Linked DNA regions of Homo sapiens. The protein of the gene in region 4 interacts with the protein of the main gene of each other region in a pairwise test. Each region holds a gene or a part of one and is shown on either strand. Other genes may lie near its edges.

The links.
Region 1: the proteins of KASH5 (region 4) and BCL2L2 interact in binary tests that used the Homo sapiens proteins (3 or more experiments, as listed by UniProt).
Region 2: the proteins of KASH5 (region 4) and PGRMC1 interact in binary tests that used the Homo sapiens proteins (3 or more experiments, as listed by UniProt).
Region 3: the proteins of KASH5 (region 4) and OLFM4 interact in binary tests that used the Homo sapiens proteins (3 or more experiments, as listed by UniProt).

What each region holds. Positions count from the first base shown.
Region 1 is NC_000014.9:23,302,093-23,309,943, reverse strand, and holds the start of BCL2L2 (bcl-2-like protein 2), read right to left. Parts: upstream 3,112-7,851; 5' UTR 3,050-3,111; exon of another isoform or gene 2,997-3,049; intron 2,753-2,996; 5' UTR 2,665-2,752; intron 2,185-2,664; 5' UTR 2,177-2,184; coding exon 1,745-2,176; intron 1,129-1,744; coding exon 979-1,128; 3' UTR 1-978. Other genes in the region: BCL2L2-PABPN1 protein, read right to left, coding at 1,012-1,128, 1,745-2,176; PPP1R3E (protein phosphatase 1 regulatory subunit 3E), read left to right, coding at 7,368-7,784. UniProt on the Homo sapiens protein: Promotes cell survival. Blocks dexamethasone-induced apoptosis. Mediates survival of postmitotic Sertoli cells by suppressing death-promoting activity of BAX.
Region 2 is NC_000023.11:119,231,395-119,239,325, reverse strand, and holds the start of PGRMC1 (membrane-associated progesterone receptor component 1), read right to left. Parts: upstream 3,042-7,931; 5' UTR 2,963-3,041; coding exon 2,635-2,962; intron 1-2,634. UniProt on the Homo sapiens protein: Component of a progesterone-binding protein complex. Binds progesterone. Has many reported cellular functions (heme homeostasis, interaction with CYPs). Required for the maintenance of uterine histoarchitecture and normal female reproductive lifespan.
Region 3 is NC_000013.11:53,024,154-53,031,816, reverse strand, and holds the start of OLFM4 (olfactomedin-4 precursor), read right to left. Parts: upstream 3,005-7,663; 5' UTR 2,981-3,004; coding exon 2,777-2,980; intron 1-2,776. UniProt on the Homo sapiens protein: May promote proliferation of pancreatic cancer cells by favoring the transition from the S to G2/M phase. In myeloid leukemic cell lines, inhibits cell growth and induces cell differentiation and apoptosis.
Region 4 is NC_000019.10:49,383,724-49,391,392, forward strand, and holds the start of KASH5 (protein KASH5), read left to right. Parts: upstream 1-4,525; 5' UTR 4,526-4,604; exon of another isoform or gene 4,605-6,615; intron 6,616-6,854; exon of another isoform or gene 6,855-6,923; intron 6,924-7,065; 5' UTR 7,066-7,160; coding exon 7,161-7,203; intron 7,204-7,669. UniProt on the Homo sapiens protein: As a component of the LINC (LInker of Nucleoskeleton and Cytoskeleton) complex, involved in the connection between the nuclear lamina and the cytoskeleton.

The DNA.
Region 1 (7,851 bases), on a different chromosome or scaffold from region 4:
CCACAACCTCAAAAGGAAAATTAGTTAGGGCCCCAATTTAGAGTTTCAGTTTGGGTACAGAGGTCCCAGAGATTGGAAACACTTTAGGCACCATTGTGCCTGAGTGGGAGAGGAGGGTGGCAGGCAGGTCCGGCTACCTAAGCCTCCACCCATCCAGGCTCAACAGCCCTGCCCTTCTATCAGAGCCCAGGAGGCAGCAGCAAGTGCATAATGCACAAGGAAGGGGGATGATGAAGGAACAAGGCCAGCTGCAGAACTGCTCTTCTCTCCAAAGCCTTGCCAATCACTTTCTGGAAAGAAGCAGCAGAGCCCTCGGTCTGGATACAATGTTTCTCTCTAAGCCTTGAGGCATCAGGACAAGGGCAGGGGAAAGGAGGGGTTGGGAGGAGGGACAGAGAACTGCCCCTAGTTCTTGCCATTGCAAGAGGGAATGTTTTCTCCTTGAGGAATCCCATCACCACCAGATTTGCCAGGCAGCCCAGCATGCACACCAGCATGCGTGCACATGCACACGCGTGTCCAAGCAGCCCACTGTTAACAGCCACCTCTCCCTATCACCTGAGAACCCCTAAGCTTCCATTCCAAAGGGATGTGCCTTCTGCGTTCCCTAAATCCCACTCATCTAATGGAATACAGCTGCTTATGTAAGTCCACCTTCCTCAGGGCTGTGAAGCAAGTTCCAGGTCGTTTCATGTGCCCACACCTATAGGCGTGATCCCTCCCACCTCCCCCAGCCCTGGAACGACTACATCTCCTGTGCCCCTAAACTTGCCAAAACATTCCCCTCCCCTCTGTGTCCTGCTCACTCTTCCAATCGCCTACCTGGCCTACTCAGCTCCCTCACACACTACCCTTTCTCTGCCCATCCTGTTCCATGCCCACCCATCCACCAACTCCACTTCTTCCAAGGGCATTTCTCTGTTCTGTTCCTGCTCTCCTGGCCCCCAGCCACACCTAGCCCCACCTGGCCCTGGACTTTCACTTGCTAGCAAAAAAGGCCCCTACAGTTACCAGGGCCCCCAGTGCCACGGCCCCCGTCAGCACTGTCCTCACTGATGCCCAGTTCCCCTCCCGCAGACGCCGCGCCTCCTCCAGGGCCCCGTCCCCGTATAGAGCTGTGAACTCCGCCTGTGGGAGAGAAGGGAAGCAGGAGAGAAAGAAGGAGAAAGGGATATCAGGAGAGGAAAGAGTGGAGAGAAGAGGAGAGGAAGAGTTCCAGTTCCATCCACTGCGAGCACTACCCCATACCCAGCTCCTCTCTGGCCAAAGCTCTTCTCCCTGCAAGCCCCTCTGATCCCCCCAGGTGCACCCCCACCCTGAGAGACTGGTTCATCTGCCCACTCTGCCTCCAGTGAATTCCATCCTTTCCTTGGCGAAAAATTCTGCTCAGAACTAGCATCCTTTGCCAAGGCTTGCCTGACCACCACCCATCCCTGGTCCTCCCCACCTCCCACGCCATGACTCAGATGTAAAAAGTCCCTGACAACATTCCCCTGCAGGCACTCCTTGGGTGTGTATTCTGTCCTCTGCTTGGGACCATGAGCCCATCCAGTGTTGACTGCATGGCAGCCCTGGAGTGCAGAGTCCAGGCATCTCTCAATCTAATTCCATCCAGACGGGGAGACTCAGCCCCGTACCTCATTCCCAACATAGCTGCCTCAGCCTCCAATCAGAGCCCCCATCTTCCCCCTGGAGACCAGCTTTGCAGAAGGATGTGCAGAGCGGCAATTGAGAAGCTTCTTACCCAGCCCCCACTGCTGTGGATCCAGTCAGCCAGCTGCGTCTCCAGGTAGGCCACCATCCACTCCTGCACTTGTCCCACCAGTGGTTCCATCTCCTTGTTGACACTCTCAGCACACAGTGCAGCCCCAAAGACAAAGAAGGCTACAAGGCGGCCCCAGTTGGGGCCCCCTTGAAAAAGTTCATCGGAGACCTGGGTGAAGCGTTGTTGGGCTGAGCCTGGGGTCACATGCAGCTGAGCCGCCAGATCAGAGAAGGTGCGCCGGAAGCGGGTCTCGAACTCATCTCCAGCTGCCCGCATGGCTTGGTGCAGCGGGTCAGCTGCTGGGCCCTCCCCGGGGCCAGCTCCACAGACATAACCCTTCTGCCTCAGCTTATAACCTACAAAGTCTGCCACCAGAGCCCGTGTGTCTGGGGCCGAGGCTGGGGTCGCCATCCGGGCGGCTATAAGAGGCAAGGATGAAAGACTGGCATGAATATATGAAGAGAGAATCAGAAGGAGCACTTCTGGTTTGACCAACCCAGTGAGATGAGGAGGAGAGAGGAAATGCTCAGGACTCACTGGACAGGGAGAGGCAAGAACAAGGGAATTAAGTCATGATATGAGACTAGGCTGTGAGTGGCTGGCCATTACATTCCTAATATGCCAAATTAAATGTAAAACAAGTAAATTTTCTGTTTAGGATACTTTAGATTCTTTTCACAATAAGACAACGTCAGCTCAATGACACCCCTACAACACCCCCACCCCCGGGTCTCCTTAGTCCACACCTTCTTGGCTAGAGGAAGGGTCTTAGGACCTCCCCAAATGCAAGATGTAAAGATGTTGGCAGAGACACAAGATGAGGGGGAGCAGATGGGCTGAAGAGAAAGGTGGGAGACGCAATGGGTTACTCCAGACAGAGAAAGGAAGGAGACACTCACCCAGCCGGGATGGCAGCTCTTAAGACACAGCACTGGTGGCAAGGAGCCCCCAGCTGGGGCCTTTCATCCTCCTGGCCAGCGTGGAGCCCTGGAAAGGGGAGGGGGAGATCAGAACCAGGAGGGGAAGGCCAGGGATCAGGTTCTGGCCTGGGAAGGGCTAGGGTTGCAGCTCTGGGCCTAGGCCCCTGCCCCCAACGCTCTACCAGCTGTGTGGCCGAATCCATGTTTAATGACTGTCCTCCCGGGAAACCCAAGGCCAAGGGCTTCCTGCCGACACCATCTCTATTCCCGGTTCCCCCTAGTGCAGCCCAAAGGCCCAGCTCCTCCCTTACCCCCACCTCAGCCAGTCTCCAACCCCGCCCGCCTGCCAGGTTAGGGATCTCACGGGTCAGGCCGCTGCCGGGATCCGGGCCGTTTCCTGGTGCAGGAGCTGGGAGGGAGGGAGAGAGGGAGGAAGGGAGGGAAGGAAGGAGGGAGGAGAAAGGGGGGGGCAGAGGGAGGGCCCGGCGCCGGGTGATGATGGGGCCCAGAGATGCGTCCAGAGAGAGGGGCGGGGCTGGGACGCAGGCCTGCAAAGGGCCACTACTCAGGAAGAGGGAGGGCTGCTGAAGGCAAAGAAGGGCTGGCTGAGAGGGCACGGTGGGCTGGGCTGGGCTGGGCTCCTGAGCCTCTAGGCTGCCCAGAGAAATATGCCGGACTTCGGGACATCTCGGGGCAAATTTAGCATTTTCAGGAGGTTTCCGATGTTCCATGCACTTGTTGAACTTTTCCAGCCCTGAACTGTGTGCCTGGAAAACAGGAGCAGTTCCCATTAAGCTGGGAACCGTCTACCAGGTGCCTTACCCTTATGGGGCTAGCAGACACCACATAGACACCAAACCTTTCCCATCTTTTCTCCAGGACCTTTAACCCAGTGTTCTCTTTGTGGGCTGGGCTTCAGCCAGGCATTAGGGAGCCAGGACTTGGATCACAAGCAGTTTCTCTCGGTACTTTTCTTTAATTCATCTTCTTTTGTAATTAGATTGATTTTAGTGGGGTTTTTTTCTTTTTCTTTTTTTTACCCAACACACAAACTCATTCTCATTATGAAAAAAATCAAACAATAAAGACGTGCGGAGTAATAAAATACAGGTTCTCAAACACACACACACATACACACCCAATTCCACTTCCCTCCCTGCAGGTTGCCAGTGTTAAGCTTGATGTTTATCCTTCCAGATTACATATATATGGGGCCATTATTTATACATGGCAGTATATTTATACAGGGCAGGTCACAGGCGTGAAGCAGTCTGACCATAGCTGATCCACATGAGGGCACTCACAGCCAGCCCCCTGGGCTCTTGGATCTGGCACTTTTTTAAAGAGTGCCCCAACCAAAGGCCAGAAAGAGGCAACCTAATTCTCCTATTCTGCTAGCTCCCTTTGCTTCTACCTCCAATCCAAGCCTCTGTATTACCATCTTCCCTTATGGTCACTGGAGAAGCAAGGTCTTTTCTGCAGCAATAACAGTAACAACTAGCTGGGTTCGGTGGCTCATACCTGTAATCCCAACACTTTGGGAGGCCAAGGCGGGTGGATCACTTGAGGCCAGGAGTTCGAGACCAGCCTGACCAACATGGCAAAACCCCATCTCTACTAAAAATACAAAAATTAGCCAGACGTAAAATACAAAAATTAGCCAGCCTGTAATCCCAGCTGCTCAGGAGGCTGAGGCATGAGAATCACTTGAACCCAGGAGGCTGAGATCATGCCACTGCACTCCAGACTGGGTGATAGAACGAGACTCTATCTCAAAAAAAAAAAAAGGTAAAAACTAACATATTTTGAGGAGTTATTAGATGCTGTGCTTTTTTTACATGTGTATTTTTTCCTCTCACCAGTCCTTATGCTGTTTTATCCTCATTCTATGAATGAGGAAATTGAGGTTTGGAGAGGTTAAGTGATTTTCCCAAAGCCATAGGCTGATATGTAAGAAGCTAGCACAGCCATCTCATGCTGTAACTTTGACACTATCGCTTCAAGATCACCTCTTGCCTTCACATAGTCAATATGGTTCTCATAGTCTGAATCCACACCATTTACAAGTCCATACTCAATTCTCTCCTCTATTCTAAACACACAGCCTATTACACTCCTTTATGGCTGTATCCTTTCAACCATCCTCATTTCATTTTTGCTCTTAGCCTGATCATTCTGGCTGCCACCAGCAAGGTTGCCCTCTTCTTTAGAGAATAACCTAGTCCAAGTCTTCATTTGCACTCCTGGTTTATTTGTTTGTTTGTGATACAAGGTTCTCACTCCATGGCCTAAACTGGAGTGCAGTGGTACAAGCACAGTTCACTTCAGCTTCCACCGTCTAGGCTCAAGCAATCTTCCCACTTCAGCCTCCCTGGTAGCTGGGACTAGAGGTGTACTGCACCATGCTTGGTTAAATTCATTTTTTATAGAGATAGGGATCTCATTATGTTGCCCAGACTGATCTCAAACTCCTGGGCCAGCTTGATTGTAACATAAATTAATGTATGATTTATTAGACATTAATTTATATGCATTATATATATTATATTGTATATGCATATACAATATATACATTGTATATATTGTATCACATATAATGATACGAAGAGAATACATCCATGCATTCTATATACGTGTAAAATTTAAAAAGTCAATATTGCTTTAAAAATGAGTCCTAGCTAACTAGTATTGCTACAGTCAATACTAGTGCGAATGCATGTAAACAGGAATGAATTGTATAATAATAAGATAACATGTGTCTCATGGTTTATTTTCAACTTAGTCACTTGTGGTTTTACAGTTAAACTATCCTGCTGCTTTAAATTTAGAGACTTCATTTCTACTCTAATATTCCCTCTTTTAACACTCTGAGGATGTTAACTATTATTGTTAAATGTTTTAATCTTATATAACCAAGCGGGTAAGAGCGTGGACTCTAGAGCTAAACTGTTTAGGTCCTAATCCCACCTCCCCAATTATTAACTATGTGACCCTGGGTAAGAGTCCTCTCCCCTCTCTCCCTCAATTCTCTCATCTTTAAACTAGACATAATAGTCTCTATTCCTCTGATGGTTGTATTACATGGGTTAGTATTTGTAAAACCCTTACAACAGTACCTAGCACATTGTAAGTGCTATATTAGATCAGTAGGAAAGTTAGAAAAAAACTAAAAACAACTTCACTTTTTTTTTTCACTAATGTTAAAAAAAAAAAATGAAAGGGGAAAAAGCCAGCTCTGCCCTTCTTGGAAGCTCCCACTGGACCTATAATTCCACAGTCCCAACTCCAAGAGAGTTGTTGGGTGCTTGTTCATTCAATAATTTGAGTGCCTACCATATACTAAAACTCACCATGAATCAGACAAAGCCCCTGCCCTCAAAGGGCTTACACTTGGATTAGAAATCAGAACTCCACCACTTTTTTACAGATAAGAACACTGAGTTCAGAGTATGGCTCTGAGTTCAGGGGTGGCTCACACCTGTAATCCCAGCACTTTGGGAGGCCGAGGCGGGCAGATCACCTGAGATCAGGAGTTCAAGACCAGCCTGGCCAAGATGGTGAAACCCCGTGTCTACTAAAAATACAAAAATTAGCCGGGCGTGGTGGTGGACGCCTGTAATCCCAGCTACTCAGGAGGCTGAGGCAGGAAAACCGCTTGAACCGGGGAGGCAGAAGTTGCAGTGAGCCGAGATCACGCCACTGCACTCCAGCCTGGGCGACAGAGCGAGACTCCATCTCACACTCACACACACACACACACACACACACACACGAGAACACTGACTCCAGAGAAGTTATGCCTTGCTTGCTCAAGGTCACTAGAAGCTAGGTCTTCCTGCAGTTCTCAGTTCGGGTGCCATATTCTCACCTTCTATTTGAAAGACTCTACCTAGCTTTCATGACCTTTCCTTCTTTGCACGCACCACCACCCCCTGCCCAAACCAGGAGCCTAGGTTTCAGAAAAGAAAACAGTGAACCCCAAAGATAAAGTCACATGCTGGGCGTTTTGAACCTTCCCCTGCAAGAAAATGAAAGGTTATTTTTTCTTCCCGGCGTTAACCTTTCCTGTGCTGTGCCGGAAAAGTTGAGGACTTTTTACATTTTATTATTATTATTATTGTAGAGATCAGGGGTCTCACTATGACGCCCAGGCTGGTCTTGAACTCCAGGCTTCAAGCGATCCTCCCACCTCGGCCTCCCAAAGTGCTGGGATTTGAGGCGTGAGCCATCGCGTCCCGTCCGTGGATGTTTTTTTTAAAAGGTTGAGTAGCTTCACTCGGGACCGCAAAGGTGGAGTCCCCGCCCCCTGGTGCAGCAGCGAAGACAAGCGGAGCCACCTGTCAGAGGGCTGTGGGCGGGGGCGCCCGGGCCGTGAGGGCCTTGGAACCGGAGGGTGAGTGCAGTTGAGCGCACGCTCAGAGCAGACCGCTAGCAGGAGGCAGGATGTGATAGTCTAAGACCCTGGAAGCTGACGGCCAGAGGGAGGGAAGGGTGGTCACAGAGGAGAGGCAAAGCAACGGGAGGTGGAGGATCCTGGAGGTGTCTGCAAGGAGAATACACAGCAGCGAGGGGCTGCAGAAGCGGACCCAGCGACTTCTGCGCTGACGCGGGGCGGGCGGGAGAGAGGAAGAGAGGGGAGCGCGGTGGCGCTGCGAGCTGGCCCCGCCGGGGAAGGGGCTGCCATGTCCCGTGAGCGGCCCCCGGGCACCGACATTCCCCGCAACCTGAGCTTCATCGCCGCGCTAACGGAGCGCGCCTACTACCGTAGCCAGCGGCCCAGCCTCGAGGAGGAGCCGGAGGAGGAGCCAGGCGAGGGCGGGACGCGGTTCGGGGCCCGATCCCGCGCTCACGCACCGAGTCGGGGCCGCCGGGCCCGATCTGCACCAGCCGGAGGCGGCGGGGCCCGGGCGCCCCGCAGCCGTAGCCCAGACACCCGCAAGAGAGTGCGTTTCGCCGACGCACTGGGGTTGGAGCTGGCTGTCGTGCGCCGCTTCCGTCCCGGTGAGCTGCCCCGGGTGCCCCGCCACGTGCAGATCCAATTGCAGAGGGACGCCCTCCGCCACTTCGCGCCCTGCCAGCCCCGCGCCCGCGGCCTCCAGGTAGGCGGCGGGGGCACCTCCCCTCCTGGGGACCTCCTCCAGTCGGCCGCAGCGGGCTTGTGGGAGT
Region 2 (7,931 bases), on a different chromosome or scaffold from region 4:
ACACTCAGAAATTTTTTACAAATTTTACAACTTTTAAATGCAAGTAAAATTCCAAAGAAAAATGCTTATTTTTAATCATCATTACATGCTGCCACATTCACTAAAGAAGGTAAAAAAAAGCCCACATTTTTCATAAATGTACACCCCTAGTGGAAATGGCAGCACCTAGTGCTTGAGAATAGGCAAATGCAATGGTTTGAACCTTACCATTTCAGAAATTATGGTCATTGGCTTGGTAGAGTGAGTCTTTACCAAGCAAACCTCATAGAATATTTAAACATAGAATATTTAAACCTCATAGAATATTTAAACATTTAAACAATTAAATGTTCTCTAGTGGGAACATTAAAAGTCTTTTAAAAATACATATTATTCAGTGCAACATATATTCACTAGAACGTAAGCTCCATAGGCAGAGATTTGTGTCTGTTTTGCTCACTGCTATATTCCCACATCTACAACAGTGCCTTGCACAGAATTAACAGGCACTAGAATGACTAATTTTTAGGAATCCTTTACAACATGAAGCATCACTTTCTACCAAGATGTCACGTAGTCATGGGCTCACTGAATGACAGTGCAAGATAGAGACAGAGATCTCACAATAGGCCATCTTTATCACTTTTCAGAGGGAAAACTAAGGCTCTGAGAGAACAATGCTTTGCACAAGGTCACACAGCTAGTCATGACCCAATCAGGACTAGAACGCAGGTTGCCTGACTCCCAGTTTTGTGCTCTGTGCACAGGCTGACATCCTCTCAATGACTCTGCAAACTACAGTCATGATGATGCCTCATGCACATGTTTTCACTCCTTTAATATTGAGCTCAATATTAACAGGTATTTACATGATTATGTTTATTGATAAAGCAACTATGTGTGCTACTCTAAGTGACAAATAATGTATGTGGTTTTCAAATGATTTTGACAGTTACATGCCTATAGAAAGCAGGTATTCTAAAATATCCACAGGCCCGGTGCAGTGGCTCATGCCTGTAATCCCAGCACTTTGGGAAATGGAGGTGGAAGGACTGCTTGCGCCCAGGAGTTCGAGACCAGCCTGGGCAACACAGGAGGGAGACCCTGTCTCTAAAAAATAAATAAAATTTATTTTTTATAATAAATAAATGTCTGCAAGAAAAAACTGAGCTCCTTAACCTTAACACATCTGATTTTGATCAGTTGGACTGGGAGACTAAAATGAATGCCTGAGTTTGTGTACTGCCTTCTGTACTCTTCCCTCTCTCAGGCCAGTGTGGAATGAGCACCGTCCATGTGGACATCCTCTAAGCTCCCTGTGTTTAGAGGAGTCCATATTGGAGGAGCCAAAACCTCTTCTTCCTCATCTCCAAGTATTCTATAAAGCAGGACTTTGCAAGCCTGGCTGCTTTTCAAATTCGCCTGGGAAGCATATTAAAATACAGACTCCCGGACCACCCGAGACTCATTTGCAGCTCTGGCGGTTAGACTGGGAATCTGTATTTTTCCTCAGATGCATCAGGTGATTCTGATACGCAACCAGGTTTGCAAAAACCTCGCCTCTAAGGAACCCATCAGGCCTGCCTTCTCCAACAGCTCAGCAGTGCAGCAGTCATCCATTCTTCATTTCCCTCTGGTTGGCTTTTCCTGATATCCCCCCACCCAGCAGTCTTCTTAGCTCTACTCCTTTTGTTTCTTGGTATCCTCCCACTTCTCCCTCCCTCCATTTTAATTTTTCTTGGCTTCTAATCCTTTCTCTCCTGCTATAGACTAAATACCATATTACCTTAAAAGCTTGCCACGTTACCATTGTCCACCATATTCAGCCTTTATTCCTCCCTCAAACAGCCCCCTTCCTCCTTGTTCACCTTCCAGCCTTTCCCCATCTGCCACACACAGCACAAGCGCACACAGACCAAACACATGCCACACACATACCTGACGCATGACCCATTTCAAGCGCGCATGCACACACCACACACACACACCCCTGATAAATCACATACACTAAACACGCACACACCGCGCATGCACACACCACGAGTGCACACACACATCACTATCCACCGGGCACAAAGCTTTTACCTGCTGCTAATCCCGTCTCGGCGTTTTCTCCCACACCCTCATATTTCAAACCTACTCCCGGTGTCATTGGCCTTCCCGTCTTCTCTAGGTCTGGACCTTTTCTCACTCTCGCCCTCCCCCATGCCTCCCTCGGAACACCCTCATTTCCTTCCTAGAACCCGACACTACCCCCTCCTCCTTCCAGGAATCCCCAAGCCCAGGACCTTCGAAAACTACCCCAACAGCCTGGGCTTTGATGTGTCCCCCCTCAACGCCTTCGAGCTTCGTGGTCCCACCCACCCCCGGCTTAAGCGCCTCAGCCTTCTTTCTCTAACCCCCTCCCAGCGCTGTCAGCGCGGGCCGGGGATCCGCGTCCCTGACTGGCCCGCAGCCCCTCTAGAGCGCCTCTTGTTCCCTGCCCGCCCCGGGAGCCTCCCGGCTCTCCGCCTGCCCGCCTACCCGCCTACCCTAGCTCGCCGCCATTCCTCCCTCCACTCAGGGGCGCCCCGCTCCCGCCTCGCCTCTCTCCCGCCCAGCCCCGTGCCGGGGCCCCCTTCTTTTGTCTCCAAGCCCCCCTCGCCGGCCGCGTACCGGGCCCGTAGAATTTGCGGCCTTTGGTCACATCGAACACCTTGCCGTTGATGGCCATGAGTATGCGCGGGTCCTGGACGCCGTCGAAGCGCCGCAGCTCGGCGGGGGTGAAGTCGCGCCGCTTGAGGCGGGGCAGAGGGGGCGGCTCGTCGTCGTCGCTGTCGCCGCTGGCCGCCGGCTGGTCCCCGCGCACGATCTTGTAGAGCAGGAAGATGCAGAGGCCAAGCAGCAGCAGGTTGAGCGGCGACGTGAAAATCTCATGCAGCAGCCCGCCGCTCTCCAGATCGCTTGGGTCGGCGCCAGTCGCCACCACATCCTCGGCAGCCATGATCTCTGGAGTAAAGGTTGGGCCGCGCTAGGCAGGGATCCGGAACTCGCCACTTTCTCCTCCCTCTGAGCGAGCGAGTGGCGCGCGGGGTTCGGCGGCGGCCAAAGACTAGCCGGGGAGGAGGCGGGGCCTGAGGGGCGGAGCCTCCAAGCCCCGCCTCCCCCGAGGCCACCTAAGCGCCCCGCCCTGCTCGGTCCCGCCCCGCAGCCCTCAGGCCCCCTCCAAAGCCTCTAGAGTCCGGCGCCGCTCCCCCGCGGCCGCGCGGTGCCCCCCTCAGTTCTACCTGGGAGGCCCCAGCCCAGCCTCACGCCATCCTCGCGCCATCCTATAGCTGAGCGCGACGCACGCGCTGCCCTCCTCTGAACCCCTTTTTTGCTCCTCGCAGACCGACCCGTTGGGAGGGCCTCGGCATTGCCGGGCTCTGTGCGAGCGCCCCTCCGCCACCTGATGCGCGCCAGACACCGACTCCCTTTCTGTTGCTGCAGGCTTTTCCCTGCCTCCCATTCTGAAGCCCCTCATCTTCCCCCTGCCGTTCCCGGGCCCTCCAAGCTGTCTTAGGAGACAGGAAACTCATTCTTCGAACTCCATTTTCTATGTTAGAGCCCTACACGACTCATTTTCACCTTGGGAACCCCCATTCGCTCTCCTTGATGGCCCTTCCCCAATTCTCCCCCAGATGCTGTGGGACCGACACCCCCGGGATTGCTAAAGTCAGTGCACAACTCTCCCTATTATCTGGGGAAACGAATCTGATCGCCCAGTTAACTTTGGGTTTGTTCTCCGAAAAACCCTTTTGCAATTACTGATTTGCTCAGTCACCAGGCATTAACAAGCAACGTTCTCTTGTTGCTCTTTTTTCCCCCCTCAGAATAATGTGAAAGTTTCTTTGTTTGGCAGCGTTCTTCTATTTGGAGTCTGTCAGGCTACCCTTGGCAGTCACAATAACCCTGAGCTGGAGCCCAGACAAAGGCGGGAGTTTGGAAGGATCCTAGGCCTGGTCCCTTCCTTTCCTAGGTATTTCATCCGGCCTTTGATGTGCTAACAGGCTGCACAGAAGCAGACCTCCACGGAGGAAGGGGTTGCCTCGTCCTAATCTGGCCCTTTTTCTGGTGGCGGGGGGAGGGGAGGAGAAGAAAGGATAGAGAGGGAAACAAATAATTAAAACCAAGCCGTGCACACATCTGCAGCCCAGAGCAGTACTTTTCCACCAAGTGTTCTGTTGGCTTGCACATAACTTACTCCTCCTCCCAACACGCAAGAGACTTGAGTAAAGATTGGCTTCCTACCTCAGAATTCTAAAAATTTCTGGCAAAAACTGCTTCCATCCCTGCCCCCCACATCTTCTTAAATCATTATAAAGTGCAATGAGCCAAACAATCTTTGTATCGGGCCCAGGCATTTTTCTCAGAGCTAAATTTGGGATTAGCTGAAACAGCCCCTCCAAATCTTTTGTCAAAACTCTTCAATTTAATCATGGAGAAACAGGCTCAAACTGAGGGCACTTGTCTATAGTTAGAATCTATCTCTTTTAACATGTATGGCCAAGAAAATTTAGAAAGCTAATAAACTTATAAAATATTTTCATTTGCAACTAATATGACAAAGGGTTAATATTTATTTGAGAGATCATTTGGATTGATAAGAAAATGTATAAGATTCTAGTCAATAAATGGGAAAAAATAGGAACAGGTAGTTCACAAAAGAGAGCATGCCAGTGGTGAATAAGCATATGAAAAATGTTCAGTCTCATTAGTAACAAAAAGAAAAGCATGGAGATGCCGCTGTCACCTACTACTTTTCTACAGGAAAGATAAAAGGGAAAAAAAAAAGGATAACACACTATTGGCGAGAGAGTGGTGAGACTCACATACGCTGTTGGGTATAACCTTTTATTATCCATAAAAATATTTTCTATCCATTAATCCCACTTCTAGAAATCTGCTCTTTGACCTAGTAATTCCATTTTCAGGAATCCATCCCAAGGAGACAGAAACGCAGACAAATATTTCATTACTAAGATGCTCAGCAGAGATTCATTTTTAATACAGAAAAACTGGAAACAACCTAAATGTCCGACTTCAAATAAAATGGCGAATTAATTCACTTGAATTGTGACAAAACCATTAAAAGGCCATTCAAATATCATCATTCTGGAGTCCTAATTAGGGAAAGGGAATCAGGCTGGTGGGAGCATGAAATAGCAAAAAGAAAAAGCAAATAAGCTACAAATCTCCCTTTCTTCATGACCAAGATGCAGCCTTCCTGCGCAAATAATTCACAATCTTCCCATGCCCAGCTATCACCAGACACCTGTAAGTTAGCTCATTGCGACCTTGGCATTATCAATATTACACAAAGACCTCTTCAACAGACAGCATAAACGCCATCCTATAAAATTTCCAGCAAGCCTTTGTCTCCTGGCAGTTGGCTTCTCTCTTGCAGGCTGCCCTTTGTCTCTCTGACAACATATTTTCCTACTTTATCTAATAAATCTACCTTCTTTTAACTAAAACTGTTTTGGTAAATTCTTTTACCAAAAATCATGACATGGCAAAACGCTTGTGTTTTAATCTTGAGGGAAAAACAGGATACAAAACTATATACAGTATGAACTCAACTATGTCAAAAAATTCATAAAACAAAGCGTGGAAAGAAATATGCTAAAATGTTAACTGTTGTGATTGTTAGTTTCTTCCTTATACCTTTCTACATTTTCCACAATGGGCATGTGTCACTTTTAACCTCAGGGGGGAAAATGGTTTATTATTTATTTTCTGAAAAAAAATGTAGAATGATAATACATGTTCACTATAACAAACTTAAACAATACGTGAGTGTATAAAGTAAAAAATGAAACTCCTTTCTCCCTCTCCAAGTTCCCCAAACAGTACTTAAATCAGGCCCATACATTAGCAGTTTGGCTTATATTCTTGCAGACATGCAACATACACACACACACACACACACACACACACACACACACACATTTTGTTTTATAAAACTGGGGGAAATTTTATATAATAAAAGTTTTATCATTTTTTTCCAATAAAGAGAGACACAGAGTAAAAAAACAAAACAAAAACCAAGCCATTAGCTCCCCACCCAGATAACCCCTGCTGGAATGTTTTTTCAAAGTAATATTTGTCTAAAGTTAGAAAATTCAAACTATGGGAAGATATAGAAGACAACTGAAGTCCCTCTCCTCACTCTTGATTCTCTTTCCTCAAAGGTAACCGCTATTAAATCTGGGGAAAGTGTTTTCATGGAGGGATGGGGAGGATTAATAATTCTCATTTATCGTAGTCCAGTGTCTCTTCTGCTACACCTCTGTGTCCCCTTGGAGGATAATGGATTAAAGGAAGTCCTGCTTCACAAGGAGGGTAGAAAACTTGTGCAACTTAAGACCTCAAGAAGTGATACAGTTTAAAAATATAAATGCTTGCAAACCAGATTTGATGTTCAATAAAGTGGGCTATTAGCTAACACTGGGATGTAGAGATTGTTGAAGAAAAGCATCCCATCATTCAGGCTCATGTCAGAATCAATGCTGAGTGGAATGGTCTCCTCCAGGGTGGCAGTTCTCAAGTTATCTGGAAATAAGCAAGAGTGCTCCTGAATAAAAAGCCCCCTTCAGAACATGAGAGTTGCCTTAATATGCTCTTTGGCTCCAAGTCAATTCCTAAAGCCGATGTACTTGACCCAAGGACTACTTATTTCCCAAGATACATGTTAAGTCTTTTAGTGTTTTCAAACTTTCTGTCTCCTTTTAATTATTTTCAAAGGTTTTAAAGAGCTTTCAGAGAAAAATAGAACAATTGGCTGATTAGCTAGAAAATGTTTGGGAAATAATTCAGCCTAGTAAGGAAGCAAATAAATCCAAAGGAACATAAAAACAATGCACCATTTCTCATCATTCAAATGACTGGAGTGTTCTTTTTTCTCTTGTTTCTTGGAGCTTTTTAAGAATGGTAATACTTGGTGTTGGCAAGCACAGAGTAAAACAAGCACTCTGACACAATTGGCAAGAGTGAAATTGCTAGAATGCAAGATTCATTTTGTTCACCAATGTATTTCAAGCCCCTAGACCATGTCTGGCACATAGTAGGCATGCAATAAATATTTGTTGAACTTAATTATATTGTAAAAGGGTCTAGGCTTTCTAGAAAGTCCTTTGGCAATATGCAATAAAAGCCTCAAACTATTCCTAGCCTGTGGCCAAGAAATTTAACTTCCAGGAATTTCCCCTAGGGAAGTGTTCAGAGATGTGAACAGAGATTTGAGTAGAAGAATCACAAAGCATGATACATGATAGCAAAAAACTGGAAACAGCCTAAGTATCCAAAGATGCTCCCCATCTCACTCAGAGTAAAAGCTCAAGTCCTTATAGCACCTACAAGGCCCTACAGGATCTGCGGTACTCTACCCACCCTTACCTTTAAGACATTAGGATCTCACCACTTTCTTCCCTGGTCACTCTACTACAGCTACAGTGGCCTCCTTGCTGCCCTTTGAACAAGCAGCCATATTTCCAATTCAGGGCCTCTGTACTTGTCATTCCATTTGTCTGGAATGCCCTTCCCCAGACATTCTCATGGGTCATTCCCTCGCTACTTTCAAATCTCACACCACCTTCTTCCTACTCCTCATCCTCCTTCCCTGCTTCATTTTCCCCCATTGCATTTACTGCTTCCTTATATACAGTATCACTTCTCATTTTTTTTATCTCTTCCAACTTGAACATAAGGCGCACAAGAACAGAGGCTTTTGTCTATATTCTTCACTGTTGTATTCCTTGTGCTTAGAATAGTGCCTGGCATGTAGTAGGTGCTCAATAAATATTTGTGGAATTGAGTTTGAATATGGAAGCCCATTATGTTAAATACCCATGCACAGAAAAAAAAATCTGAAGGAAATGCACCTAAGAGTTATCTCTGGGTTGTGAGATTATAGGTAATTTTTGCTATCTTCT
Region 3 (7,663 bases), on a different chromosome or scaffold from region 4:
GAGTACCTCACAAGACACCTTATATTGGTAGGTTTTCCCTAAGCACGTGTTCAATTAACATTTACTGATGTCTACACTATGCCAGGTTCTGGCTTTAGGGAGATGATTAAGACTCAATTTCTGCCCAGGAATCAGGCCCACTGTCACTCTGAAAGCCCTACTTGTTTTTTCAAACCAGCCTTGTAGCCTGATGACAAGAAAACACGTGACTCGTTGCAGTTCCAACTATACCAGTTACTCTGTGGAGTGAGCATTGAGGCTTTTCCTAGTCTTGTGAATTGAGGACCCTGCAGAGGCCCCTCCTCAGGAGGGAGACGTCTGAGGCAGAGAGTACTCTGAGTGCTTACAGCAGAAGGTGCAACTCACATTTAAGGTGATTTAATGTTGCAACTGGCTCTAATTAGTAGCCAAGGCTAAGTGTCAGCAAAGATTCAAGGTATAAAATAATGGTACTCAACATTTTCAAAGTACAGAAAATGATATGTTTGGAACTTACTCAATGACAGTTATAAAAGGGTTTTCTACCACCTTCCAAAGAGCTCATCAAGCTGACAGCCAGCCCCAGAAAATTAGGTTGATAGTGAAATTGACTCCTAGTCCAGTATAAAAAAAAAGTTGGAGTTGTGATACTGACTCACCAGGGAGAGATAAGTAAAAAGGAAAATTAAAACCTCTAAGTCCAATTTAACTACCATGTCTCATCTACTTTTAAATATCTGTCTTTTTACCAGACAATAGGCATTCTGGATTTCTCTGTTTCTTGATCTGTATTTTATTTTCTATTATTATAGTTGATAATCTTACCCAAATGCTGGTTTCTGACTGGTGATGGAGCTTCATAATAAATTATTATTGTTAACCTCAGTCCAAAAAAGAGTGCTAGACAATTCTGATCATCCCCAGAAATCATTGAGTATCACAGAATAAACTTATGTAACTGATTTCTGACTGCAAAGAATCCTTGTGCCTACTTATGATTCCCAAGCCTCCCTCCTCTAACTAAAAAATAAGCAATTTTCATCTATACTCCTTGGAAATATAGAAACCTATATGTACAGACATGGTGAAGAGAATGGACAGACTAATTTTGAGCTATATAACTTGCTAGCTTAGTGACTTAAAACTAATGACTTCACCTTGATAAGCCTTAGTTTTCACATCTCTAAAATGGGACCATTAATTGTACCTACCTCTTAGGGTTAAATAAGATAATACAGGCCAGGTGCGGTGGCTCATGCCTGTAATCCCAGCACTTTGGGAGGCTGAGGCAGGCAGATCATGAGGTCAGGAGTTCGAGACCAGCCTGACCAACATGGTGAAACTCCATCTCTACTAAAAATACAAAAATTAGCCAGGCGTGGTGGCGGGTGCCTGTAATCCCAGCTACTCAGGAGGCTGAGGTGGGACAATCGCTTGAACCTGGTAGGCGGAGGTTGCAGTGAGCCGAGATCGTGCCACTGCACTCCAGCCTGGGTGACAGAATGAGACTCTGTCTCAAAAAACAAACAAACAACAACAACAACAAAAAGATATATATTATGTACTTAACCTAGTCCTGGCATTTATTAGACACACAGTAAATGTTATTGCTGCTGTTTCTATCTAGGCCCTATCCAAATCATTTGTTAATTATCACATTTTTATTATCTGTAATTTCTGATGGTCAAAATAAAACAAATAAAAGTCTTTTCCTCCCCCTTCTCCCATTTGCCCTTCCATTCAAGCATGATAATGTAAGCAGCTACCTGACCTGTGAGGAAAGATCCTAGAGGCTTAGAGAGAGAAGCTTTGGCCCAGATAAGACTCCCCCACCCCAAGTTATACCTTAGCAAAAATAGCCTAGGAGGTTTGCAGAGTGGGGTTCCCGCAGAAAGGCCCAGAGTGAAATGAATAACTGCTTCTTACCTCCTAACCTCTCATGCCCTCCAGCCCATTCTCCTTTCTTTAAAGGAGATCCAAAGAGGACTCATCCCCCACGGAACTGGCTTACTATGCCTTCAATGCACTTAGCCTAGCTGTACCAGCCTCGTTGTAATGCATGACTTTTGGTTTTGTTTGTTTGTTGCTACTGTTGTTTGGAGCTGGAAATGGTCCTGAAGATTCCCTGTAAAGAAGACTGCAAAGAGTGAACACTCCCCTAGGCGAATGTCCACTGGTAATAACACTTTGCTAAAGACCAGTAACTCCCCCCTTATTTCTGACACCCACCTCCTTTATAAACCAGGCCAAGAGAAATGGTCAGGGCTTCAACTAGGGCACTGCGGCTCTCACTCCCTCGAGGGCTACTGTTCACCATTCCGGGATCCTGCCAGGCAGCAAAACAACTGGACAAACTTCCCAGAGCTGCAACTCACAGAGTCTTTCCCTAACAGTTCCCATCTTGGACTATATATTAGAATCACCTGGGGAGAGGTTTTTTAAAATATTTGATTTGTATACATCTATGTAGGATTTTTTTAAGTACAGAACCCAGGCATCTGTACTTTTAGAGTCCCCCCGGCCACCCATTCTAATGTGCAGCCAGATTTGAGAATTCCTCTAAAGCATAGATATTCCCAAAAGTCCCAGCTGGAGAACTGCGATATCGTCTCTCTTGCTAACAATTTAATTATTTTACTGAGGCTTTAATTCATTTCCGGGGCACCTATAGTTAACAAAATGAGTCGTAAATCTTTTAGAGTGCCCAGGTCTAGCCATCCATGAAATTGTATTCAGGTACCCAAAAGCAAATGGAAGGGAATGAATGCAGCTCATTCAGATTCTGGGGCCTCCTCACCTGGGACACAGAACCTCCGCTGCCTAAGCTGCGGCTGGAGCTGGAGCCCGACCTGGAGCTGGAGCTGAAGCTGGAGCTGGAGTCAACACCTGGGAAAGAGCTGAAGCCGGGGCTGGGAATTGGAGGTCCCACATCCCCCAAATCCCCTGCAGCTTGGCCAAGGAAGAACAGAAGGGCTAGGAGAAATGAGAGGCCGGGCCTCATCTTGTCCTCTTAGCTGGAGCCGCTGGCTCTGCAGAGAGCCCAGGGGCTTCTTATAGTGCCCAGTGGTGATTTCCCCATGGCCAGCATGTAGGAAAAGAGGGAGTGGCCAGGGAACGTGTGAACTGCCCCAGGAGGTTCAGGACACCCAGGAATCTGAGTCATGGCCCACACCTTGTCAGTGAGGCCCACTCTGTGAGCTGCCCTTGGATCCAGATATCCCCTGCCAAACATTAACTCAAATGTGCTTTGTAAAGCCCAATATTTGGTTTCCCACTTGGTACTTCCTTGAAAGAGATGAGACCAAAGTAGTCTTTGTGGATGACACAGAGTTTGGAGGCTCCATGGAGGAAAAGCAACCCTCAGTCCTTTGCCTCACAGCACTTCTAGTGCTCTCCCCCATTTTACTGAATACTACTTTTCACAGACAGTTAGGGAACTTGCCTTAGGGACTGTGGCTCTCCTCCAGGAGCGACTGAGCTTCCCTCTTCAGTTCCTATTGCCCAAGTTGTCGTTGACCTGTTCCTTACAGTGACTGTTTCTAGACAAAGTTGTCTAACAACCCCACTCTGAAGGAAAGACCAGCAACGTTTTGTTCCCTGGCCAACCAGGTAGGACTCTGCCCTATCAAGTACTCACCACTGTATGCTTCATATAGGGAAGAGAAAACACCCAAATAAACAAAGGGATCCCGATGACCCAGTGCCCGCTCTCCCAGGCCAGGGCACTGCCTCAAACCCAGTCAAGGAGGACCCCAGGAGCAGTTTCTCTCTCCAGAAAACTTTGACCTCTATTGCCCCTGAGCTTCTTGTGAGCCAGCCAGGCATTCAAGATCTCAAGCTTATTCTTCATAAAACTGAGAAATAAGATGCATTTTCTCTTGCTCAGCAGCTCTGACCCTGGGCTCCAGGATCCATTTGCCCTGCTCAACATTTCACACACCTTTGTGACCTCTGCCTTCTTCCCTGGAGAAAGAAAAAGGTGTTAGTCTCGGTATTAAGACCCAGCTCTGGGCCGGGGATGCTGGCTCGCACCTGTAATCCCAGCACTTTGGGAGGCCAAGGTGGGAGGATGGCTTGAGCTCAAGAGTTGGAGACCATCCTGGGCAATGTGGTGAGACCCTGTCTCTACAAAAAATGAAAAAAATAGCCAAGTGTGGCGGTATGCACCTGTGGTCCCAGCTACTTGGGAAGCTGAGGTGGGAGGATCACCTGAGCCTGGGAGGTTGCGGCTGTAGTGAGCCATGTTCACACCACTGCACTGCAGCATGGGTGACAGAGTAAGGCTGTCTCAAAAGAACAAAAACAAACAAAAAAGCTGTGTCACAATGAGTCGGTGGCCTTGAGCATGTCACTTAGCCCCTCTAGGGTTGTAACAATTCCTAAATTGTTTGAATTAAATGAAATATTGTATGGGAAGTTGCTTATGACTTTTGACGTGCCATAAAAATGTCAGCTTTTTCATTGTTTGTTTAATTTCCTAAAGACTAGATCAATATGTAAGATTGCTGGGTTCAAAACAAGGAGAGAAGGTTCATGCCCCACTCCACCCCACCCCAGAAGCTCCACACAAACTCTCAGAATAAGCACAGTGCTAATGTGAGAAACAGGGTCTTAAACCCCTGGTACACTATTCAGAAACTGGGGTGGTGGGGAGGGGGAAGGGGAGACAGGAAAACCACAAATGGATGGATAGAGAGTGAAGAAGAACAGATAGGGAGAAATGTGGGCTGTAAAGTTCATTGTTCTCTGTGGGAAGCAGTTCAGCCTTGGCCTCTTTGGTCAAATGTTCTAACCACTTAGATCCCCAGTCCAAGGCAGGGAATGCATACAGAATGTGTGAGAATGAAAACTGGGAGACTGAATCCATTATTCTAAGATTGAATGCAATGAATATGGACATAAGGAGAAGAATGTGTCTCTACCTCCCAGCACAATTCCCCTCTTCCTCCCGATTCCCACCAAAACAAATGGCAAATCTGTTCTCATTTGCTAGTAGCCTCTGCATGTGGCTGTAATGAGCCTTCCTTGTACCTTTTTTCAAGGAGCATGTTGGTGCCCTGTCAGAAAGAAAATCTCATTAACAGTGGTATAGCCTGTAGTCATGACTACCTTTAAGGTCTCCTATGGCCAATTCATTAGAAGACCCCTTACCAGAGGGGTGGCAATACTGCAGAAATGGGACAGCAGTTCTCCCAAGCACAAATGTGCCTTAGCCAGGGAAGAACCACCACCCACTGTGCTCATAAGCTTCTTTGTTCTTGTATGGCTCCAGAGTTTCCAGAATAAAACTTTAATCTATTTGGTAGCCCTCAAATGCACAAAAGCATTGGTGATGCCTCCGTAATGAGATTATTAATAATAATGAGATTATTAATAAAAATAGTTTGATCAGTTTCCCTGCAAATACCTTTGTCCTAAGAAACAAGCAGCCTCCTGGTTGTATGACAGACTCAAAGACAGGAACAAAATTATCAGAGCTGCAAAGCAAAGTGTATTATTTGTAAAAATGTGTTCTACCCTGGGCTCCTTCTAGAGTAAGGGGTCACCGAAATTCACATGAGTAATACAGCAATCTTCACTGACAGTTTGAAAGAAAGTTACTATTTATGCACTTCATTAGGGGACCTCCCCAAACCGTACTTCTTGAACAGTTGCAACACACAAGGAAGACATCCGTGTAGACATAACTTTAATTTAATCCTCCTGTCATTAAAAATCAAACATACTGCTGCATTTTTGCAGGAGGGTATCTATGGGGTATCTGGTGTATATGAGGAAAACAGAGGCTGTGTTTGGTCTACAGATTGGTAATAGAGGCTTTTCATATCAGTTGACTACATCGTCAACAACCCTCAAATTTCTATTAGCAATATCAACAATCGTGTATATAAGTAATAATCAGCTGACCCCATTTATTTACCCTGGAAAGTGGTCCCTCAGTTAACAGTGTGTGTTAGAGCCTACTCTGTGCAGAACATCAGGCCCTATGATGATAAGGAAAGAAGAATGCATAATTTTTTCTAATGAAAATGCCTAGTCACTTACGGAAGGCAGGCCACTTCAGGGAATATACTAGGAATAAACACAAATTGAACACAAAACCAGTTAAATGAATACTGAGAAATGACTGGATAGACTCCAGAGACCCAAGATGGGTTGAAGTGTGAAGAATTTGCCAGGTGCTGAGCTTCTTAGGGATGGAGACCATGGCTTCATTGGTTTTCAATCTCCAGCACCTAGCCCAGTGCTTGGCATTTGGTGTCTAATAAACGTTTGTACACTGAGGAATATATTTAATAAATGAATGCATGCATGCATGAATGAGTGGATTGATTTAATAAGAATTGTGAAGGAAATTCTTAAATAACTATTGGAGAAAATACTTATTTTTTTAAAAATTAGTGTTGAAGAAAAGGGAGTGATTTCCAAGCAAGAGAAATTGTACAAGTTAAAGAACATAGGCAACTCAAATTCTCTCCAGGGTCATGATTATGCCCTTGTACCTACAATCTCATGTAGCCCACTCTAGCAACTCATACTTGGATTCGAGTTCTTAAGGTTATTCCTCAGCCTGACCTGAACACCAAATCAACATTCTCACTCCCTAAGCCTATCCTATATCAAGAACTACCTAAATTTTGCCATGTTATTGTGGTTTAGAAGATCAAAACCCCCAATTACAGAATTTTCAGCCAAATACTTATGTTTTCAATCTGCAGCAAAATCATTCCTGTTGACAAAATGCAGAACCAAACTAGTAAAAATGGCAACTAATGGAAAACAGGGCAAACTTCTACGCAAATGCAGAAAGGCAACAACTGAAGTGTTGAAAGGTAGCATGTACTAATTTGGGGGGAAAAAGAGAAGCTTTACACCCTCCACAGAGAAAGTTTGGACTAATGAGCCATAACAGTGCCCAGAAGCCTTTCCCCACCACCATCACAAGGGGTGAATGGACTCAGGAGACACCAAACTTCAGGTTTATCTCTGGACCCTACTAGATGGAATCTGCCCAGAGACCTAGAACCAGACTGCCCTCTAAATTCCTCTTGCCATCTCCCGACTAAGCATTGAAGCACACCTTCACTTCACCTCAACATCAGTACCTGGGTTTTTCATATCCCATACCTCTTGGATATTGTAAATCACCCACGGGTTCCTCCAAGGCCAGGTCAGTTGGTTTCTGCAGCTAGAGGCAAAGAGCGTACTTGCCTTGCTCATCTGTCCCAATACAGAAGCCTTTGCCTGCCTCCCATCCAAACCACCTGAGCTACAGCACCTGGGTTCTGAGTGACAACTGTTGTCTCCATAGTTAGTTGCACATGTCTAACCTCCTACACCTCTAACTGTGAGAAAGAGGCAAACTCTTCCTGCACCTATGGGACACTGTCACCCGGAAATTTTAAGTACGACCACTGCAGCGATTTGAAGCATTTTCAAATTTAGTCATACCTTCTATTTTTCTGTTGCTGTTACTTCCCTGCCCGAATATTCTCAGTCTCTGTGTTATGGACTGAATGTTTGTGTCTGCAAAATTCAAGGTTGAAATCTTAAGCCCTAAGTGATGGAATCAGGAGGTAGGGCCTTTGGAAGGTGATTAGCTCATGAGGGTGGAGCCCTTGTAAGGGAATTGGTGCTCTTATGAAAAGAATCCCAGGCAGCTTTTTTTGTCCTCTTTCCTCCA
Region 4 (7,669 bases):
TATGATCTATGGACTGTTCTATATAAATATTACACTTCACTAAGAGTTTTGGTAAAGTCAAAAATCAGCAGTCAGCATAAAACAAAACCCAACTATATGCTGTTACAAGAGACATGCCTTAAATATAAGCACACAAAAAGATGGAAAGTTACAGGATGAAAAAGATACCCTATATAAACACTAACCAAAGAAAGCTGGAGAAATCTCTACATCAAAGTAGCCATTAAGGCAAAAAGCATTGCTAGAAGTAAAAAATGACATTTCAAGGTAATAAAGGGGTCAAGTCACCAGGAGGATATAACCATTCTAAATCTGTATGCATTTAATAATACAGCTTCAACATATATAAAGCAAAAATGACAGAACTGAGAGATGGAAAAATCCACAGTCATTCAGTACAAGAAGCAAACAGTGAAGATATTAAAGATTTGAACAGCATGATTGACAAACTTGACCTGACATAGCTGACCTGCAGGATACACACTCTGTTCTTTTCTTTTTTTTTTCTTTTTTTTTTTTTTTTGAAACAGAGTTTCACTCTTGTTGCCCATGCTGGAGTCCAGTGGCACAATCTCGGCTCATTGCAACCTCTGCCTCCCAGGTTCAAGCAATTCTCCTGCCTCAGCCTCCTGAGTAGCTGGGAAGACAGGCGTGTACCACCATGCCTGACTAATTTTTTTTTATTTTTAGTAGAGATGGGGTTTCACCATGTTGGCCAGGATGGTCTCAAACTCCCAACCTCAGGTGATCCGCCTGCCTCAGCCTCCCAAAGTGCTGGGATTACAGGCGTGAGCCACCACACCTGGCCTTTTTTTTTTCTTTTTTTTTTTTTGAGATGAAGTCTCGCTCTGTCTGGCCCAGGCTGTAGTGCAGTGGCGCGATCTCAGCTCACTGTACCCTCCACCTCCTGGGTTCAAGCAATTCTCCTGCCTCAGCCTCCTGAGTAGCTGGGATTACAGGCACATGCCACCACATCTGGCTAATTTTGTATTTTTAGTATAAACGGGCTTTCACCATGTTGGCCAGGCTGGTCTTGAACTCCTGACCTCAGGTGATCCACCCAACTTGGCCTTCCAAAGTGCTGGGATTACAGGTATGAGCCACCACGCCAAGCTACTCTTTTCAAATACACATGAAGCATTTGCTAAAATAGATGAAATCGTGGACTATAAAGCAAATCTCAACAAATGTCAAAGAAATGAAATCATATAGAGTATGTTTGTATGTTTTCTGACTACAGTGAATTAAGTAGGAAGCAATAATAAAAAGATAGCAGGGGGCCGGGCGCAGTGGCTCACGCCTGTAATCTCAGCACTTTGGGAGGCTGAGGCAGAGGAATCACAAGGTCAAGAGATCGAGATCATCCTGGCCAACATGGTGAAACCCCGTCTCTACTAAAAATACAAAAAAAAAAAAAAAGTTGGCTGTGGTGGTGCGTGCCTGTAGTCCCATCTACTCAGGAGGCTGAGGCAGGAGAATCACTTGAATCCAGGAGGCAGAGGTTGTAGTGAGCCCAGATCACGCCACTGCACCCAACCTGGCGACAAAGCGAGACTCCGTCTCAAAAATAAATAAATAATAAAAAGATAGCAGGGAAGTCATAAAATATTTGGAAAGTAAGCAATATATCTCTAAAAATTATCACTCAGGTCAAATTAGAAAATATTTTGAATTGATAATAATGGAAACGTGGCCAGGCATGGTGGCTCATGCCAATAATCCCAGCACTCTGGGAGGCTGAGGCAGGCAGATCACTTGAGGTCGGGAGTTCGAGACCAGCCTAGCCAACATGGAGAAACCCCCATCTCTACTAAAGATACAAAAATTAGCCAGGTGTGGTGGTGCATGCCTGTAATCCCAGCTACTCGGGAGGCTGAGGCAGGAGAATCATTTGAACCCAGGAGGCAGAGATTGCAGCGAGCCAAGATTGTGCCATTGCACTCCAGCCTGGGTGACAGATCGAGACTCTGTCTCAAAAAATAATAATAATAATAGAAATGTGGCATAACAAATGTGTCAAGTGTAGCTACAGAAGTTTTTAGAAGGCAAATGATGGCTCTAAACGCATGTATTAGAAGAGATCTTTAAAAATCAAATGACCTGGCTGGGCACATGACCTGGCATCAGCACGGTGGCTCACGCCTCTAATCCCAGCACTTTAGGAGGCCAAGGCAGGCGGCTCACCCGAGGTCAGGAGTTCAAGACCAGTCTGGCCAACATGGTGAAACCCCGACTCTACTAAAAATACAAAAAATTAGCCAGGCATGGTGGGGCACGCCTGTAATCCCAGCTACTCAGTAGGTTGAGGCAGGAGAATCGCTTGAACTCGGGAGGCACAGGTTGCAGTGAGCCAAGACCGCACCACTGCACTCCAGCCTGGGTGACAGTGAAACTCCGTCTCAAAAAAAAAATCAATGGCTTAATAACCTAAAAATATCAGTGACCTAAGCATTCACCTCAAGAAGTTGGGGGGAAAAAGCTGGAAAAAGAACAGCAGATCATGCCGGGCGCGGTGGCTCACGCCTGTAATCCCAGCACTTTGGGAGGCCGAGGCGGGCGGATCACGAGGTCAGGAGATCGAGACCATCCTGGCTAACACGGTGAAACCCCGTCTCTACTAAAAATACAAAAAATTAGCCGGGCGTGGTAGCGGGTGCCTGTAGTCCCAGCTACTCGGGAGGCTGAGGCAGGAGAATGGCGTGAACCCGGGAGGCGGAGCTTGCAGTGAGCCGAGATCGCCCCACTGCACTCCAGCCTGGGCGACAGAGCGAGACTCCGTCTCAAAAAAAAAAAACAAAAAAACAAAAAAAAAAACAGCAAGATCAGGGGCTTGAGGGCACATGGCTGTAGTCCCACCTACTCAGGAGGCTGAGGTGGGAGGATTACTTGAGCCCAGGAGGTGGAGGCTGCAGTGAGCTAGGGTCACATTACTGCACTCTATCCTGGGTGAGAACCTGTCTCAGAAAGAGAGGAGGGGGGAGGGGAGGGGAGGAAGGGGAGGGAGGAGGGGAGGCAGTGGACGCGGAGGGGAAGGGAGGGGAAGGGAGGGGAAGGGAGGGGAAGGGAGGGGGAAGGGAGGGGAAGGGAGGGGAGATAAAGGGAGGGGGAGGGGAAGGGAGGTGGGAGGGGAGATGAGGGGAGGAAAGTGGGGGGAGGAGAGGAGCAGAGGGGAAGAGAGGGGGAGGGGAGGGGAAGGTACGGGGGAGGGGAGATGAGGGGAGGGGAGTGGGGGAAGGGGAGGACAGGAGCAGAAGGGAAGGGAGGCGGGAGGGGAGGGGAAGGTACGGGGGAGGGGAGATGAGGGGAGGGGAGTGGGGGAAGGGGAGGAGAGGAGCAGAGGGGAAGGGAGGGGGGAAAAGAGAGATGGCACAAATTATTAATATCCGTCACCACAGATCTTACAGATATTAAAAAGATTGGGCATGGTGGCTCATGCCAGTAACCCCAGCACTTTGGGAGGCCAAGGTAGGAGGATCATTTGAGGGCAGGAGTTCGAGACCAGCCTAACATAAGACCGTGTTTCTCCCCCTCCAAAAAAAGACAATATTATGAACTTTATGCAAATTATTTGAAATTTTAGATAAAATGGAAAAATTCCTTGAAAACCACAACTTACCAAAACCACAACTTACCAGAAATAAAATAGAACATCTGAATAGTTGTATTTTTATAAAAGAAATAGAATTTGTAATTTAAAGTCTTTCCACAAAGAAAACTCTAGGTCCAGATGGCTGGTGACTTCTTCCAAACACATAAAAAATAAATAACATCAATCCTACACTAGCACTTTCAAAGAATAGAAAAAGAGAGAACACTTCTCCACACATTATATCAGCATAGCCTTGTTAACAAAACTCAACAGGGATCTCACAGAAAAGAAAAGAAAAGAAAATATGGCAATACATAAAAAGGACAGGCCAGGCGCTGTGTCTCACGCCTGTAATCCCAGCACTTTGGGAGGCCGAGGCGGGTGGATCGCCTGAGGTTGGGAGTTCGGTACCGGCCTGGCCAACGTGGTGAAACCCCGTCTCTACTAAAAATACAAAAATTAGCCAGGTGTGGTGGCGGGCGCATGTAATCCCAGCTACTCGGGAGGCTGAGGCAGGAGAATTGCTTGAACCCGGGAGGCGGAGGTTGCAGTGAGCTAAAATTGTCCCACTGCACTCCAGCCTGGGCGACAGAGCGAGACTCCATCTCAAAAAAAAAAAAAAAAGAAAGAAATGGGGGACGGACAAGGAGTCTCTCAGTTCAATTCCCCCTTCCTCAGCCCATTTCACCAAAGCCTGAAGCGGAAGAGAAAAACACGAGCCCCAGCATGGCGGGCGCAGCCACCCCCTCCTTCCACCACCAGACAAACTCCGTGGCCACAGCCCACACCGCCAGCGCGCATGCGTGACACGCGTCGGCCGCCGGTTTGCACCTGCGTCTTAAGAGGAGTCCGGGCGGGGAGGGGCGGGGCTCAGACGCTGCGCACGCGCACTCGCGACCCCTCGCCTCCTTTTGCTTTTTCTGGCGGGAAAAGCTCACGCGCACCTCCCCCAACTCAACTGCCGTTCGTCGTTCGTGGATGTCCGTTGTGTCCCGAGACTAGGACGTGGCTCCAGGTGCGCCCTGCCCCGCGGCGAGGTTCCCAGAATGGCCCTTCCCAGCCCCTACCGAAATCCTAGCGAAGCCCCCCCATATTGTGGGAGAGATACCCCTGCGTCAGGGCCCCCCAGATCCTGACCACTTGGGAGGCCGAGGCGGGCGGATCACGAGGTCAGAAGATAGAGACCATCCCGGGGAAGTGAAACCCCGTCTCTACTAAAAATACAAAAAATTAGCCAGGCGTAGTGGCACGCGCCTATAATCCCAGCTACTCAGGAGGCTGGGGCAGGAGAACTGCTTGAACCTGGAAGGCAGAGGTTGCAGTGAGCTGAGATCGCGCCACTGCACTCCAGCCTGGGTGACAAGAGTGAGACTCCGTCTCAAAAAAAAAAAAAAAAATCCTGACCACATCCCCTCAGATATACTGAAAGGAGTCCACCAGGAAATCTTATAGTTGACCCCCGAAATCCTGTCAGAATCGTCTAGAAATTGTCAGACTTCTCCCTCAGAGCCTGCCAGAAACTTTCCCCAAAATCCTATTACTCTCCCCAGATCAGCAGAGCCACCTAGACTCGTGTCAGAGATCCCCAGAAATCCTGGCAGGTCCCCTCCCAAACCCAGTCGGACCTCAGATTCCGTCAGAGAGCACAGAAGTCCATCAAAGACACCCCAGAAACGGAGACCCCGAAATGCACTCAGAGACCCCCGCAGAAATCAAGACCCTCCAAATCCAGCCAGAGACCCCCAGAAATCCAGTCAGACCCCTGCAGAAATCAAGACCCCCAAAATCCAGCCAGAGACCCCCAGAAATCCAGAGACCCCCGCATAAATCAAGACCCCCAAAATCCAGAGACCCCGAATAAATCAAGACCCCCAAAATCCAGTCAGAGAACCCCCAGAAATCCAATCAGACCCCCGCAGAAATCAAGACCCCCGAAATCCAGCCAGAGACCCCTGAAATCCAGTCAGAGACCCCCACAGAAATCAAAATCTCCAAAATCCAGCCAGACACTCCCCAGAAATCCAGTCAGAGACCCCCCCAAAATCCTGTCAGAGCCCTTGAAAGCCCGCCAAGGCCCACACCACCCAGAGCTCCTGCCAGGGCCCCATCCTGCTTCAGTGTCCCCGTCTCAGTCCCGTCAGACCCCCGAGATCAACCAACACCCCCGGGGTCCCTCAGGACTCCATCCCGAACCCACTCCGTGCGCCAGGGCCCAGCCAAGGCCATCGCCCCCCTTTGCACCCTGCAGGGTGTTCCAGACCCTGGAAGGGCCTCTCTTCAAAGACCCGTGTTTCCAGAACGGTGGCAGCGGGCTCACGTGGCTTGGGGAGAGCAGGCACTGGGGGAGCTGGGTGAGGACAGGCGAGCCCAGGCTCGACTGGTGGCCCCAAGGGGCGCCCGTGCCCGCTGTGATGATAGCAGCGCCCAGGTCTCTCTCTAGCCCCCAGAGTGCGGCCACTAAGGTTTTGGGTCGGCCTGGGTGGAATGGAGGCAGGATGGGGCCCCCCAAACTCCTGTCACTGCTGCAGGGACTGCCCAGAGCAGCTGCAAGTGGGGCTGGCAGGGATGAGGAGGAGGTGGCCTGGGCTTGGGGGACCATGTACATCCTGAGTTGGAACCCAGGGGAGCAGCAGGTTTGGGGCCATGATGAGGAGAGACCTAGGGGTTGCCCGACGGAGAGAAAAGGGACAGGAAGAGGCAGGAGCTTCAGAGACTACTCAATGCCACTCTAGCCTGAGGGACTGGAACTTAGTCCGGGGGCATTAGGGAGCCATGGGAGGATCAGGAGCAGGGGCAAGTCAGGATCAAACTCCCATGAGAAGCCAGCCGGCCAAATCCAGGCTGATGTGGCAAGAATGGCAGCTGCCCAGGGCTGTGTGGGAGCCAGACACGGCCCCTCGCTTCCCGGAAGAGGCCACGTGAAGCCGAAGCAGGATGCAGGAGGGCGTCCCAGGCAGAGACCTGGGCATGGGAGCGGTCCGCAGCTCAGAGTGGCTGGAGCATCATGTGCGATTTGGGGTGCTGAGGTGGGCGGTCAGCCATGCAGGGCCTTGGCGTCAGGGCCAGGGTCTCACCCGTACCCAGGATTCAGGGAGCCATGGAAGGGTACTTAGCAGGGGAGGGGCAGGTCAGCTCTGGGGCCCTGTGGGGACAGACTGGAGGACAAGCCTGGGGATAGGAGGCTGGGACAAAGGCCAGGGAAGAGGACCAGGCAGCCTGGACCGGCGGCAAGCCATGTGAAGAAAGGGAGGCAGTGACCTCCCCCACCCACCCACTAGCCCCTTTGATGTCAGCCACCTCGTTCTCCAGCCCACACCTCCAATCCATAAAACAGGTCAGAGCGGAGCTGCTCAGGTCACAGCGGGGGTGACAAACAGGTTGTGAGGACCCAGAGGTCCTGGGGCACAGGTGGGGCTAGGCAGGCCCCGACCCTTGGTGGCTGCTCTGAGGACACCATTTCCTGCTTCTCCTTCCAGGAGTGCTCGGGCCAGCTGGTCCTTTTCCCATCCCTCCCCATGAAGGAGGGAGGCTGGTAGCTTTGCCAGCAGCTGCGCCGCGGCAGGGGTGGCCCATGGACCTGCCCGAGGGCCCGGTGGGTGGCCCCACTGCGGAAAGTAAGTGGCTGGAACCCTATTTGCCCCGGGGAGGGTGAGGAGGGAGCCATGGGTGAATGGGTGCCAGGCTGTGACTCGGGGACTTGGGAGAGGTGGCTGGGGGTGGCTGAGCCTTTGCATGGGTGCAGAGTGGAAGGGAGGGAAGGGACTCTGGTAGATTAAGTGCCTACTCTATGCCCGCCCACCTGTCACTACCCCTTATCTCCTGTGGGGAGGCTGGACTGTGTGAGAGCGCAAGCAGCCGCACCCCTTACTCCATTCAGATCGCGGCCCAGATGGCACTTCTTACTTTATGTAAAGCAGCTGCCCTGTGACACTCTCTCCCCTGCCCCGCTTCATTTCTCTTCACAGTGCTCACATCTGTATGTCATGTTTTGTCTCTGTCTCCCCTGCTAGAGCATGAGCTCCACAAGGCAGCGTCTGTTTTATTCACTCTGGTATTCCCAGTCCCTAGAGCAGCGCTGTC